Linked DNA regions of Homo sapiens: region 2 is linked to region 1. Evidence: fine-mapped expression QTL. Tissue or cell type: lung. Region 1 holds a variant in brackets; the other region holds the start of a gene. All regions are shown on one strand. Distances are from middle to middle.

Evidence for each region. PIP is the estimated chance that this variant, and not a neighbour inherited with it, causes the effect.
Region 2: it holds the start of CPED1, and the variant in region 1 is fine-mapped to the expression of CPED1 in lung (TOPMed, PIP above 0.99).

The regions. Positions count from the first base shown.
Region 1 is chr7:121,023,974-121,032,163 of GRCh38, forward strand. The region is part of intron 3 of CPED1 (cadherin like and PC-esterase domain containing 1); the gene reads left to right. Among named protein-coding and RNA genes, the nearest start is that of CPED1, 39 kb to the left of the region's middle. The variant C/G (reference allele first, on the strand shown) is at 3,949.
Region 2 is chr7:120,984,471-120,992,660 of GRCh38, forward strand. It overlaps CPED1 (cadherin like and PC-esterase domain containing 1), which reads left to right and starts at 4,241. Exons shown (of 23, transcript NM_024913.5): 1 at 4,241-4,442; 2 at 4,921-5,400. The coding sequence starts at 5,152. RefSeq lists an enhancer at 3,417-3,496.

The DNA.
Region 1 (8,190 bases):
AGAAGTGCTTCTGTACTTTATTTAGTTAATCAAACTGGGGGGAAAAAAGGAATTGAATCAAAGAAACATGTAAGACTGCACTATTCTATTTTACTGGGTTATGACACACAGTAATTGTATGCTCAGGTTTATTGTTATTTTCCTCAGTGCTTATAGATTTACTGATGTATTTACGACCAAACAGAATTCGTTCTTTAATTGGCTCACTGGAGCTCAAGGAATGTTTATTTAACCTTAACTCAGTTGAGTTGTTTAGACTACAGGGACTTCAGTTCAATTTACTTTAATTTTTGAAAAAAATTTTCTTATTTATAAAAGTTGAGCTTAGAGTGACCTCCCCATTCTGATGTTTTCTTTACCCTTCGCTGTGCACAGAGAACAAAAAGCCAGTGTCTCGTTTTTACTCCAAAGAAACTAAACTGCTTCCTTAAATGGGTTAGCTCTTACAACTGAAAATGGCAACCAGATGTTTACCAAAGTCCCTAGCATTGCCCCTTCAAGCCTAGCTTCCTTCTAATTGTTTGATCTTTTTAAGTTTCATAGAAACCAGACTGGGTATTTAAATTGTCTAAAGCTGGGAAATGTTTAAATATAACTTTGAAGATACTTTCTCTGAACTGTCTTGTTAGATGTACTTTCTTTTATTTTTAAGGAAAAATGCAGCATTGAAAATTTGATAAGTAATTTACTTCAGGTCATTGTTCTTTTTGTATGTCTTTAAAATGGAAAAAAGACTATTTTTTGAAAAGAAATTAGACATTTTTGTTTGGTTTTGCCTAAACTGTGCTTTGAATGGCAGATTTAATTTGTAAAAACACATAATATCCGAATTACATTTAGATTGAGGAAAGACTCCAGGAAAGATAAACAAACTCCTTCATACGGGAGCTTTCAAACGACAGTTTGTGGATTAACTAAAAAGGGAGTTTGGAGACTCCAGGTACAGGGTGTTTGCTACGCCAATGCATTATCCAGTTTAGCTGTTTGAAGTATTTTTGACATTTTTCTCAATTTGGGAGGCGTTTGGGAGCTTCTAACTATAGTTCCCAGACTCTTTTAATGATTGTACAACTTTTACTTTCTACTCTCAATATTATAAATATTGTTGAAACCTCCCAACTCACTTCCTTTTTAGACTTGATGTTTCCCAAAATAATTAACATTTTCCCCTGAAGGTCTTTCATCTTTTTTAGCTGAAGTTGCTTCCCTCTTACACTGTCTCTTGGTGGACTTACAAACTACCATTTGGGTAATAAAGCCTTAAGAAAAAGTAGAAATTTTTTCTTAGCAATCTCTCCCCAATTAACTGTCTATAATGACTTTCACCCCCACCTATCTCCTAAAATTGTGCCTTCACAATTTACCAAGAAACTCCTTTTTGTTAGGAAATTCAGTCACTATTAAACTGCAATATTTTTGGTATTAGAATAGATTTGGGCGTGAGTAGAATATCAGTGTTTCTCAAAAGTTATATAAATTCTATTTAAATAATGAATTAAGCATTGATGTGAATTCACTGAGGTAATTTCTCAGTTTCTTTTTTCTTACTCTAGCAGTGTTTCCCAAACTCGATGAAATGCATGAGCCGTAGTGGAATAAACACCTTGCTCGTGGTATGGGTTGGGAGTGTTCTTCCAAACCCTTTTCCCTCTTAACCTCCTGAATGATGCCTTAACCTGCATCTCCCATCTTTCAACCCCTCCTTCTTTGTGTTCTTTCTCCAAATATGGACATTCTCCAAGATATTTATCCCCAGTCATTTTTTTCCTTTTCTTGATACTCCCGTCAAGAATTTTTTGTACTCTGCAAATGCAATATCCCCCTCAGGAGATATAACCTCTAGATAAGGTTGAATCCTATCTAATTTGTCTCCTATGGGCAGAATTTGGAGAGTCAAGATTGTCCAGGTACCTGATAGATGTTTTGATTTGTGTGTCCTACCGCCTCAACATGTATAAAACACAACTGATAGTGCTATCCCGGCAGTATCTATCATTCTTGCCTGACATGTTTCTGTTGCTAGTTCCATATTCCCTCACTCTCTCAGCTCTAAAGCTCATCATCACATCCCCCGTCCCCGTTAGGAGATCACTATGATTTAGGCAGTCTTCCTTAAGCTCTGAGCGATCATTTCTTTCTTAAAAACTTGTTAATTTCAGTGATGCCAACTTTATATTTCCATTGAGCAAATGACAGTGGTATAACTGTCAAAAAAACAAACAAAAAAACAAAAACAGAGGACTTGCTTACTTAGGTGAACTGGAATCTCAAGTTTTCAAGAGAAACTGGCCTGTTCAGGGGTCTACCTGCTTCCTTACAGTTTCAGTTTCTCTTTCCTGAAATCACAACACACATCTGTCACCAAGCCCTGTAAAATGTGCATCTGCTCTGCCATGGCTCCCCTTTCCCTACAGCTGCTTTGCCTCATCCTTGTGCTATCATAGTGGCTATTAAACACTCCCCTATTGTTTTCTGCTAAACAGAACACATATTTCTTAATTAGGCATTCAATACTTCCCCTGCCATGGGGTCAGACACTTCCACATCCCTGCTATAGCCATGGTTCTCAGGCCTGTCCGCACATTCCAATTACTTAAGGAACTTAAAAATTTAAAAAGCCAATGCCCAGGTGACACTCCAGAAAATTAAATCAGAATTTTGGGGGAGGGAGACAGACCAGGACATCATTATTTAAAAAAAAAAAAAAAAAAGTTTCCCAGGTGATACTAATACATGGCTAGGGAGGATAACCATAGTAATTGGCCTGCTCACCTTTGCCTGATCACATTTCAAAGCTTTCTGCCTTGCATTGATGTTGAGGTTTTTGTTTCCTAGAGCTCCCTCCTGTCAGTTCTTTTTTTTTTTTTTTTTTTTTTTGAGACAATCTGGCTTTGTTGCCCAGGCTGGAGTGCAGTGGTGCAACCATGGCTCACTGCAGCCTTGACATCCTGGCCTCAATGGATCCTCCCACCTCAATCCCTGAGTAGCCAGCACTACAGGAGCGTGCCACCAAGCCCAGCTAATTTTTCTTATTTTTTTTTTTTTTTGTAGAGAGGGGAATCTCACTATGTTACCCAGACTGGTGTCGAACTACTGGGCTCAAGCAATTGTCCCGCCTCAGCATCTCAAAGTGCTGGGATTACAGACGTGAACCATCTCGCCTGGCTCTGTCATTTCTTAAAGTTCAAATGAATGTATGAAATCCCCCCTCAATTCTTCTCAAGCTAGAAATGGTGAACAAATTTCCTTAGACCTCATCACACATTATTCATATATCTCTGATGCCTAGGGTATGATTTGTGTCATACTTTTTGATAATTTTTATGTGTTCATCTTATCTCCCCTTTTGTATTATAAACTTCTTGTGAAGCAGGGAGTATTTCATTCATCTATTTATATGGTATTCTGCATAAAACAATGTCGTGCATATACCTAGTAGATACACAATTAAATGTATATGCAATTGAAAAAACAAACCCACAAATACACTAATAAAATAGCTGAATCTCTCCTTCAGATATTCAAGTGCCATTTTCTTCTTTGGACTTTTGGAAAAAAAATTAGTGATCTTCATAAGAAACAGCTCTATGGTACAGCAAAATGAAATGTGCTCAGGGCTGTGTCTCAGCTCAACCAACTGAGGAACAGAACTCACATCCCCCTACCCCTAGTGAAGTCTCTTTGTAACATTCTTTCAGATTTCATCAAACCAGTGACATCTCTGTTGCCAAAGAAAGAATTCCACCAACAAGTTAATTATAACCTTTAGTAATAATAATAATAATAATAATAATAATAATAATAATGAGTTTCAGCTCTTTCTCGAAGGAAAAGTAGGAAAGTCACATGTGAGTCTCACCATTTATACAACAAAATGTTCCATTTAGAGTGGGGAACTCTTGGAATTTAAAAAATCTTGTTTAACATTCCACCTCCTTATCAGAGTCA[C/G]TAAACAAGCGATTAAGGGATGAGGAGAGCAGAGGCGACTCTCGGGGACCTGACTAGCTCTATATTTTATAATTATCAGAAGCTAAATGGAATCCCTGTCTGGATGTTTGCCTGAAAACATAGTTTTGGCAAAGCTCTACCATGGTACCTACTGATTTGCTAGGATGGTGATTTTCAAATTTGGCATGCGTCAGTGTTCTCTGGAAGGCTTGTTAAGTTGCAGACTGCAGATTGCTGGGCCCTACTCACAGTAGATCTGATTCAGTAAGAATGGAGAGGCAGGTTAAAAATTTGGATTTCTAACAAGTTTCCAGGTAATGGTAATATGCTGGTCCTGGGACCACGTGTTGAGAATGACTGTGCTAGTTACTTTTTTATTATGGTTTTTCAGCTTTTCTTACAGAAGCACAAAGAACTTCTGTGTATTTCCTATTTAAGTAGTTAGTAGCCAAACAATTCCTCATTTGCCTTGCCAGGACCCTGAATCAACCTTTCACTTTGGTAAGAAGCCCCACACTGAATTTGCGCAGACGCTGAACCCATTAATTATGAGTTGACTTGCAAAGTATTTGTACATGTTAGCTTCTTTACAGTCAAAGCCAATGATCTCATTTTAAAATGATAGCACAAGCAGCTGAATTTAGACTGTCTTTGGACACACCGAACTTTCTGGAAGAGAGTAGGATCAAGGCAAAAATATGAACACGTTTTATTGCACATAATAATTATAGGCCCCAAACAGAAGCAAGATGATACTGTGGAAAAAACATTGGCCTAGGTTGCATTGTCTATGTGAAACCATGTCTAAATTGCTTAATTTCTCCAGATGCTTTTCATTTGCATAAAATGGATATTTTTGGATTAAATGACCTTTAAGGTCCATTCCATTTGGAAAGTGCAAAAAGAAGTACACTAATGAATGAGAGGGATTACCTGTAAACCACCAACAAAGATAATTAATGTTGGATGTTTCTTTATAAGCTTTTATACATTTTATGCAGTTTTCTAGCTTGCTTTCTTAGCTATTAGTTTAATAGCTAATAATAATAAACCATTTTTAGCTTTATTATTATCAGAAACACATACCATAAAAACTTTGTAAACATTATTTCAATGGCTGTATAAAGTTATATTATATAAATTTATTTAATACTTCCTTAACCTAATTTACCTAATTTTTCCAACATCATTAGATAATTATATTTCCCACTGTTTTGCTGTTGTAAATAATGCAATCATAACATTATTATATGTAAATCTTTGTCCACATTCCTAATTATTTTTAGCATAGATTTCTGAAATTAAAGTTATTGGAATAAAGGGTGAGAATCATTTCTAAAGCTCTTCATTTGTGTTATCAAAATTCTATCTGAAAAGGTTAAGTCATTTCTCATCAGCTGCACAAGAAATTTCCCATAAGAAACAAATCTCTTATTTCAATAAGTGAGGCTGTTTTAAGATTGAGGACTTTACCTGTTGTTCTATGGAAGTATAGAGTGAAATTTCAAATTCATAGTTGTAGTATAAAACTGATGAACTTTCTTCTGGAAAATTGTTATTTGTGTCATATTAGAAATGCTGGGAATGCTGGAATGGCAGGCACGTTCCACAGCTATCTGAAAACTCATCCAGATAGCAAATGTATCAGGAATAATGAGGGTTTACATTTTCATTGGTGTGTTTGCTCAAATATTTCTGTTCATTATTTGTCCACTTTCAGGAGAGATAGCATATTAAGGTTAATCAGCAGCAATTTATTTTGTGTGGTACCTGAAATTTCTACTTTATAATCGTACATGACATGATTACCACATGATAAAATCGATTTTTATTTCTTGTCTTACGGAAAGAAATCCTATTATCTTGTCTTGTCACATTGAGTATTTTTAAGGCACTCTGTCTTATATCAGACATTTTGAATTTTAAAATGATCAATGTCCAGGTTAATTTTATATACATTTTCATATCTGTCTAATTTTTTTTGGCATTTTATAGTGCTTTGAAAGATACAGTGTGTAAAAGACAATTTATGTTTTAGAGAATGATGTTCCTTACCTTGATGCATAGTCTTCCTGTTTATAAAGATGTTACATGTTTATGGTGGAATAGTCAATCAAATACTGGCAAATACAAAAATAAAAGTGAAAATTACTCCAAATTCCAGAGATAACATGGTTAACAATGTTGTGCATATTTCCAGGAATCTTTTTAAGCATCACACATGCACACACAGACACACACACACGATAGACACACACATTTATGTTCTACTCTTTTACCTCCTGCCTCTTTACAAACAGTACATGATAAAAGACTTGCCATATTAACAATTTTAAACAATTAATACATTTTTAAATCAATAGTTTTAAGCTAGCCTTTATTGAGTACAGTATTCCTCCCTTATCCATGGTTTCACTTTCCGTGGTTCCAGTTACCCGTAGTCAACTGCAGTCCAAAAATATTAAATTGAAAACTCTGAAATAAATAATTTGTAAGCTTTAATTGTGCATCATTCTGAGTAGCATGAAGAAATCTCAAGCTGTCTAACTCTGTTCTGCCCCAGGACATGAATCGTCCCTTTGTCTAACATCTCCATGCTGTAGATGCCCCCTACCCTTTGAGTCACTTGGTAGCCTTCTTATTTATCAGATCGACTTTCGTCTCAGTGCTTTACTCAAGTCATCCTTATTTTACTTAATGGCCCCAAAGGGCAAGAGTAGTGATGCTAGTATATTGTTATAATTATTCTATTTTATTATTAGTTATTGTCATTAATCTCTTAATGTGCCTAATTTATAAATTCAGCTTTATCAAAGATATGTATATATAGGAAAAAAATAGTATTTTATAGTGTTTTGTACTATCCATAGTTTCAGGCATCCACTTGAGGGGGGAGGTCTTGAAACATATCTCCTGCAGATAAGGGGGACTACTATATTAATTAAATGCATTGTTCTATGCACTTTATATGTATTAACTAATCTATTTCTCACTTCTAGTCCATAAGGTAGATATTTCTATTTCAAAGATGAATTGAGGTTTAGGCAGTCATATATCCAAAGCAGTTCATGTCATAAATGGTGGAGTTGACGCTTGACCCAAGGGTCAGTTTATCATCAAACCTGAGCTTTTAACCAGAATATCATACAGATTTCCTGCAAGTGTATAGAAAATGCATGCTTCATTCTTTTTAGCATATTATTGTATGCATACACCATATTTTTAAACAAATTCCTTCTTAATAATTAGGTTTTTTCAACTTGTTGCTATAAAATACAACTTTGCTGTGATATTCATTTATATCATATTTTAGAGATTTGAGTTATAATACAAAATTATTGCATCAATGGGTAAAAATATTAAAACTGTGGGCCTGCCTGCCAACTTTTTTCTTTTTTTGTTTTTTTCGAGATGGAGTCTTGCTCTGTTGCCCAGGTTGGAGGGCAGTGGCGTGATCCCAGGTTCAAGCGATTCTCCTGCCTCAGTCTTCTGAGTAGCTGGGATTACAGGTGCCTTCCACCACACCCAGCTAATTTTTGTATTTTTAGTGGAGATGGGGTTTCACCATGTTGGCCAGGCTGGTCTCGAACTCTTAAACTTAAGTAATCCACTCGCCTTGGCCTCCCAAAGTGCTGGAATTATGGGCATGAGCCACCACACTCAGCCAGTCTCTGCCAATTTCTCTACAAAAAGATGGTTTCTGTTTTTGCTTCCACCAACAGTGCTGATACCCTATGTGTCTTCAGTATTAGACATTATCACATGTCTTCAGTATTGGATATTTATCTCATCAGATTAAAAAATGACACAAAATGTCTATTTTTAATAAAAATTTTGATTTTCACATCAGTTGAAAATATATTATTGACTAAATACATTTAAAATAATTTTATTTGTAAAACTTAATACTATGTATATATGAATACACAGTTCATAGAAAAGCAAATTTAAATGACAAAATGAAGAATAGATGCTGAACCTCATAAAAACTTAAGGAAAGATAATTTAAAATATAGTGTATTACTTTATATTCATGAGATTGGCAAAACCTAAAATTAGTGATATCACCTATTGATGGTGAGGATTCTGAGAAAGAAAACTCTCATACATTGCTTGTGGAAATGTGAAATATTATGGCCTTATTTTGGGAAAGCAATCTGGAAATATCTATACAACTTTAAATATACTTTTAAGCCAACAATCTTATTCTTGGGAACCAACGTGATAGAATTTAAAGCATCA
Region 2 (8,190 bases), 40 kb before region 1:
TGGTTTCCTACTAAGACATAAGACCTTTATTTTCCCTCTTGCAGTAGTTGAAATCTTTGTGACTTGTTAGGGCCCAGTTGGGAAGTGGTTACTTTTTTCTTATCACCTCTCAAAAGATGTGAACTCCTTATTTTGATTCTCCATGTTGCTTGGAATATATCCATCTTAGTTGTGGCTGGGACTGCTATCTGTTTATCAGCCTTATTTCCTTTTCCTCCTGGGCATGTAACTAGATCTCATTTCACAACTCCATTTCTGTTAGGTGGGTCCATGTGAGTAGGCTCTGGACAATAGAACATGGCACAAGAGGTATATGCCAATTTGAAGCTTGGCCCATAAAAGACCTCCCACAAAATTCACCATGCCCTTTCTCATTCATTGTCTGCTAATGGGAGGCAGAGGATCCCAATGAGTATCCAAGATTCTAGGTTATGGAAAGTCACCAGGTGGAAGGACCTTAGGTACCAAATGTCTTAGAGAAAACTGACAAACACTTAAAAATGTTGTGAGTGAGAAATGAGCTCTTATTGTATCAAGCCAATGAAATTTTATGGTTATTTTTACAGTTATTTGTTTCAGCAGTTATCCTGCTGTGACCCATTCATCAGTGTGTTTCTTATATTTCAGTTGTTCATAGTATTTGTCATATGTCTTCTGTTTTTCCCAGCACCTAGGATGATGTTTCTGCATAGTAGAGATTCAATGTGTCATTCAGGGTTTAAAAACCTCATCTTAAGTTCATAGCTTATGGGGCAAGTTCTAGAGTCAGCATTAGATAAGAGGTGATAGGAGCTGAGAAGAGGGCTGTCAAACTTTCTAGGGAAGAGGGACTGGAAGGTTAGAGACCAGGCATTGCTGATAAGACTTCCAGCACTTAATCCATGACGTCACTGCTAGTAACTACAGCTGGATTTTACCTTATCATAGTCAGATAATATCTTGAAAGGGAAAGGCTGTTCCCTGCAGGAAAGCAACAGAGCCCAGAATCTGAAGACAGAGAGGAAATCCATGTCAAAATGTATCCCTAAAAGCATACATTTTCGTAGCCTAGGGTGACCTTTGAGGTCATCAGTTGATCCCTGAAACTCCTGTTTTATGAGAAAGATGGGACTCAGAGGGATAGAGAGATATATTACTTCCCCAAAGTTCCTAATCCAACACTGGAATTTTATGTTAAGAATATTTTTATTCCCTTAGTTAAAAAAAATTTAAAAAAAATACCTTCTTCAAACAATTATTTGAGTGCATACTTTCCTCTTACACCTACTCCATACCAAAGACCAAATGAAATGTGTGGGAAGGGAGCGTATATTTTGTGTTGGAGAGGTTTGGGGAGAAAGATTGTTCTGTTTTGTCCAAGCTCGAAATGATAGGATCCTGAAAGGCCTGTTAATCTATTGTCCCAGATTAATCTGCTTAAATACAGGCCCTTGAATACTGAAATTATTTAGTGTAAAGTGTACTTTATGAAATTATATGCACAAAAGCATTTAGTCTGAAATACTGCCAGAATCTACAGCCTCGTATTTCTCGTGAATATTTACCCTCTAACCCCATCCCTAAATTAACTTGTTCTCTGTCTTTATTATTCCCTATTTTTTTGTTTGTTTGTTTGTTTTGTTTTGTTGTTTTTGAGACATGGTCTCACTCTGTTGTCCAGGCCAGAGTACAGTGGCACAATCATGGCTCACTGTAGCCTTGACCTCCCTGGGCTCAGGTGATCCTCCTACCTCAGCCTCTTGAGTAGCTAGGACCACAGGCACACACCAACAGGCTTGGCTAATTTTTTGCAGAGATGGAGTTTCGCCATGTTGTCCAGGCTGGTCTGAGACTCCTGGGCTCAAGTGATCCTCCCGCCTTGGCCTCCCAAAGTGCTGGGATTACAGGTGAGCGACATCGCAACCGGCCTCATTCACTCTTCTGACTCCTTCAAGCTCTGTCATTCCATTCGAATGTGTGTAACCTACTGCTCAGGTGTAAATACCTCTCAGGTAGAGTCTCCACATGCTGCTTTCATGCCACCCTTGCCCTTGTCCTCCCAAACCAGCATCTGCTGGTGGGTGCACTTCTATCTCAAAGAGGGAAAGGAAGAGAACTAAGAGCTCATGTTTGCTTTTGGTGTCTAGATGTTCCACGGGACTCATTATTTGATAATTATCTTTTTACGTGTCTGACACCACATCTCCCATAAACTCAGTGAGGAAGGAGCACAGCCTCAGGATTCAAACCTTAACATACATGCATTCAGCATTCATTTATCCAGCAAATACAGAATGCTTAGTTGCTTTCCATATATTATCTCAACTAGTTGTACCAACAACACTTCAAAGGAAACATTAGTATCCTTATATCACGAATGAGGAAAGCTGAGACTTTGGTCAAACCACTTGTTTAAGAACAGCTGATAAAAGGCAGTGCCATGAATCATATCCAGATTGGGTTTACTCTAAAATCAGATGCTTGTGTATCGCCTTAGTCTATTTGGTGATAATTCCTGCTATATCTCCTTTCCACCTCTTGTTTGCACCTTCTCAAGCTACCTCTTTTCTCTCTCTTGCAAATATTTCCTTACTGCTTTCTTCCACTCCCTTGGACTCAGTGGTTAAAATGGGAAATGGGGTTCTTTAATCTACTAGAATCATTTCTGGGATACTAATTTTCCACCTTCTTCCCAATTCCCATTATTTGAAGTCTAGCTATATTATCTTAAAATTTTCAATACTGTTGTCTTTCATTTCTCCCAACCGAATGGCAATTTTATTTTAGCATCTGATTTACTTTCTTCTGTACCTTGTTCTCAACAATTTAATAAAGCATAAGAATGACTCTTTAGATTCCCCAAACTCTGTTTTTCAGACTTCTTGCCTTAACAGAACTTAATAGAACTGTCTGCCTATTCCTTATCACTCAGTAACAGCATTGTCACACCCTGGATTCCAATTTAGAAATCTCACAATTCTTATTATCTCTCAAATCACATTGCATCCACCAAAACGATATGTCCTACAACACCACTGTTCAGCCATTTTCTCTTAAAACTCTTTTGGCTTCTAAAAGTGAAGCATCACTTTATTTTTCTCTATCCCATTTGTCATAAGATTAAGGACTCTGAACCTATACATAAAATAATATTAAAGCCACTGGAGGCGATACATGCAAGGGCTTGGGATAAATCCAGCTTCCGTGTGAATATTTCTTCTGTAATGTGTTAATTAATTTGTTCTATAGGATGTTAAAAGGGTTTCTTTCTCACAAGCAAGGAACTCTAGATGCCCATTTCTCTGAATCTGTGCTAGCTGGGCACCCCTAGGGGGCGCTCCGTCTCTCAAAATACAAGGGGCTGACAGCAGCGTGCCTCTGGGTGAGGCTCACTCTAGGGGTGTGGCCTCACGGAGAACCTCAACCCACAAGAGTTTGGCTTAGAAACAAGTTTGAAAACCTCTTCAGGTCCAGAGCCTTTAAATAATGCCTGCTATGCGCTAAGACAGCCCTGGGTATCCAGAGTTCACAAAGCAAGGACTGATTTCCTTTCGCCTTGACAGCCTCAGCAAAAGTGGAAGGGGGTTTGCAGAATTGCACTATTAGCAGCGTCCACCCGAAGGTCTGCACAGAATTAGACTGAGCTGATTCTGGACAAAGCCCACTGTGTACCTTTATCTACTGGGCAAAAGTTACCCCCAACACCTGCTATAATCGACTCATTTTAGGAGCAAAATGTCAGGCCATGAAGCATCAGATCATTGAAAGACCCAATTAATTAGTCCAGGAAAGGAGTAATAAGAACATCTGTGATCTGAGTTCCATACTAAGACACAGAGAGACGACTGAGTTATTCTGGTGCTTGCTGTCTGAGGTCCAGACAGTACTTGTGACCCTCTTATCCTCAGAAGAGTAACCACAATTCCCTGGAGTGAAGAATATCCCAATTCACTCATGGAGTTCACTTTAGTCTCATTCTCGACCTTTGTCACCAATTGGCTAAGGCTATTTGTTTTTCCAATTCTGTATTAGGAAAAAGAAGTTGCACAGAGGATCAGACATCAGATACGTTTCTAAATTCTGCAGCTCTGGGTGGGCAGCCTCATTTGGGGAAATGCTAGCTGCTGTTTCCAAAGTGGGGAAGCCCACGGTTTCGGACACAGGGCTGACAGCGCTGCTCCAGCAGCCCCCAGGGCCAGAGGAACCCGGCCTTAGCTCCGCCCCGCTCTGCCCGGCCCCGGGTGGCTGCGATGCCGAGGTCCTCTGCTCCCGCCGGGCGTGCAGCGGGCGCGCGCGCGTGTGTTTATGTGTCTGTGTGCGTGTGTGTGTGTGTCTCTCTCTGTGTGTGTGTGAGATGAATTGGAGTCATACGACTGGGTGTTTCCTTCCGAGTGGTTTTCATCAGCAATCCATTAGGAAATCATGGAAACTTTTTTTTTCCTGGCTAAAAGGATGAAAACTGAGTAAGTACATAGAACTTTGAACTTGAGACGGAATGAAACAAATTCAAGCAAAAACCCTGACAGTAACCATGTCCATTCAAATTGCGTATGCCCTTTTTATGTTAAAAGCCGTGAATACTTACAGGACAGTGGGAATTTAAAACTAAATGAAGGGAAGCATACAAAAGGCTGAAAGCAAGACTGCTTTAAAACCGGAGGAAAATTGAGGAACTGCTAAGGCAACCTGGCCTGAGTTCAGCTGTGCAACAGGCACTTTGGGTTTTAATCTTTTGCGTTCTTCAATGCTGTTTTCAGACTCCAGATATACTTTGGTATTGTTTTCTCTCTTCCTGCAAAGCTGAGGCAGAGTCGGACTCCTTTACTGTGAGTTGAAAGATGTGAGAATAAGGCATTGCTGGAAGCAACAGTTTGGCAGCCTGGGGTACACTCAGGTTATTCGTTACAACTATTATTATTTGATGTCTTTTTTTAAACTCAGGTCATCCACTTTTGACTGTCATCCATGGAAGAGCTCTTATTAAAAGCCTCAGACTTTCGGGACCTATGATTCTTTGGCACAACCTTTTGGAAAATTCTTAAGCAGGGATGAAGCAAACTTGATTGGAGTTGGGGAAAAAGAAGACAGATTAGTATTTTTCATGCTGACAAAAAATAGCTGCTATGACTTTTCCCGCAACGTGGACAGGGGCCAAGTGAAGCTGAACTGGTCATGGTCTGTCGCCCAGTGTTCCCTTGTCGTCGGCGATTTTGCCCCCGACCCTTCTTGGTGGGCTTAGTGGTGGCAATCTGTCTCTTCTACCAGACTCTGACCCTCCGAGGGTCGAGGAAGCTCACAGCCGCTGCCCCTGGGGCTGTCCCACACACATCCACTGAAACCCAGGCAAGCAGATGCAAGAAAGGATTCTCTCAGGACAAACAGTGCTTCCTTCTCTCTGGTAATGCCCAGGAAACCAGAAAGGTAAGACTCTCATAAGCTTAACGGAGACAGTTTCTGCAAAGACAGCAATCTGCTTCTCTGTCCTTTCTATAAAACTAAAATTAACTTCCATGAGGTCTGAAAGGGATCCAGAGTGTAAACAGCCTAGAGAGTGACCTGATGACTGGGAAACACGTTACATAAGCTTCAACTTCTTATAGTTACTTCCAGAAAGTTCTGGCATTACTTTATCTCTTAGGATTTCACTTCATTTCAGTGGAATGAAGTAGACAGTTTGGAGGAGGCATAAAATGATGTGGATTCTTTCTAAAATATCAGTATTCTAAGAGATCTGAGGATTTACAATTCAAAAACATAAATCAAAGTTTCAAAAACTTTGATAAACCTTGAGTGTCTCTTTTCTCAAGGCAGTCAGTATGAGTGCCCAGACCATTCCAGACTCAAAGATTCTCCAAAGTTTCATTTTGTAACTAGCTAGATTGATTCTTAATTGGTGACCACATTTCTAAAGCAATATATTTACTTCGAAAGCATTAAAATAATAGGATAATAGGTTTCTTCAAAAGAATTGATACAATGTATTTTATTGTTTATAGGATCAGGGAAATACAGATTATTCTATATTTATACTATTCAGATAAACTTACTAATCTTACTTGTCAAATATTGAAAAAAAACACAAAAAGCACACAAAGTAACACAGGATTTCTATTTTAATATACCACTCTCCTCATGCCTATCAGTAATATAATGACCTGTAACATAGTCAAGTGTAAAACAGAACATGAAGAAATAAAAAAAAATCCATGCAAAAAAGATCATGGTGGCAAAGCTACTAAATTTTATGTTACAACAAGTAGTATTGTAGCAACAAAATAGAGGGCTCTGTAAGTAGCATCTTATATCTACAGTAGATTCTGGTCGATCTTATGATGCCGGTTACCGTTTGAAGTAGAATTTCTACTTGAACACCAGCTCCGTTGCTACCATTATTACCAAAACCTCCACGATTGACCAGCACCACTTCTTTTAAAAACTCTTTTATTTATTTCGTTTCAGACTACTGCCCTGTGAGACAGGTACAGTAGATAGGATTATTAGCATTTTATGAACAAGGAGCCTGACAGTGCCATTTAGGTAGGTCACATGGTTAGCATTATGACAAGATGCATCCCCAGAGCAATAGCTATCAAGCTGCTTGGTTCCTACTGCAGGGCTGATGCTCCAAATAAAAGTCAATTCAAAGCCCTTGTAATAATTTTTGAAACCACAACTACAAGAACTTACTGAAATACAAAATAACATTAAGTTAAAACAAGGAAAATTTTAAACTTTTAAGTGACTTCATTTGTTATCCGTAATGCCAGGAAACATCCTGACCAAGAACTATCTTATGACAAAGAATAGTAGATAATATAAGTTGAAACACTTTAAAATGAAACTGCAACTGAAATTGTACATCTATTTTTAGGCACAGTAAAGTTATTGAAGAATGTGTATTTTTGTTGTTGTTGTTCATTTATACTAGCATTAACTTTTTTCTTTTCCTGACTACATCACAGTTACAATGGATGTAAACTGTGACTGTTAAAGTCATTTCTTGTTAGTTTCAACATTGAGAAAGGCAATTTCTTAAAAAATAGTTGAGATAGTCTTGCTCTTATTTAATGCCTAAAATTTTTGCTAGGAATTTTGAATGAAAAGGTTTTATTCATGAACTTACAGCTTTCTTACTCCCCTTGTTCACTCTGTGTGATTCCTACTTTGTTTGTAATTTAGGCATATGTTAGCTGTTATTTGTGGGCTGTCATAGAAAATTCGATTTCAACTTTGAATCTCCTACTACTTATAAACCATCTGAAACTTACTGGCTCCTGGTGTAAAACATTCACTTGAGAATTTTCTTCACCAAAAATGCCAAACACATGATGAATTTCGTTTAAAAATGATTCACAGTCTTAAGTATTTTAACTGTAAGCAAGATTCTAAATTTACAATTATAGTTCAGGAGCCCAGTGGATATGGAAAGTAGATTTCCAAACATTAGCCATGTCACTCCATTTTTAACCTATGCCAGCCCCTGGATTAAAGCCACTTTTTATTTGAGACAGAAAGGAAGTGAGAAAGAAAGTATCATACACATGTTAATTAAAACCAGATACAAATTAATTCTACTTATAGTATATGTTTTGAAAAAAGAGTCAAATCATACTCCAATTTAAATTATTAGATACTCTTTCAGATGGCTAAAATGAAGAGAGAAAGCTTTTGGGATCAATATATTGATCATTTTCTAAAGTAACTACTTGTGAAGTTCATTTAAAAAAACTGATTAGATGCTATATAGGTTTCCTGAAAACCTAGAATTAGCTTTGAGGCATTTTATAGAAGTAGCATTGTTTCTATCTGTAAATTTTGGATTTTGTTATTACTTTTATTTAGTCAAATCTTAGTCAAATCTTTGCTTTAAGTGTTTTTAAAAGTTACTTAAACCAGCTGATTTTGACCTAGGGTTCATGGATTCCAGAATGTATTTAGATGTATGAAATGTATACATCCATGACATTTTATGCAAAATACTGTAATGTAGGTGTATGTGAAGATCTTTGGGGGGAAAATTATAGATTTATGTCAGATATTCAGAACTAAAAACATGCTAAGAACCACTACAAATGCTTAACAACCAGTATGTTTACATGTTAAACTAACTGCCCCTCCAGGATGTGTAAACTGGATGTAGATTTAAAAACCTAAAATCAAAAAATCATAGTTAAAGACTTCAACTGAGCATATTAGAACAAGTGTTTCAGT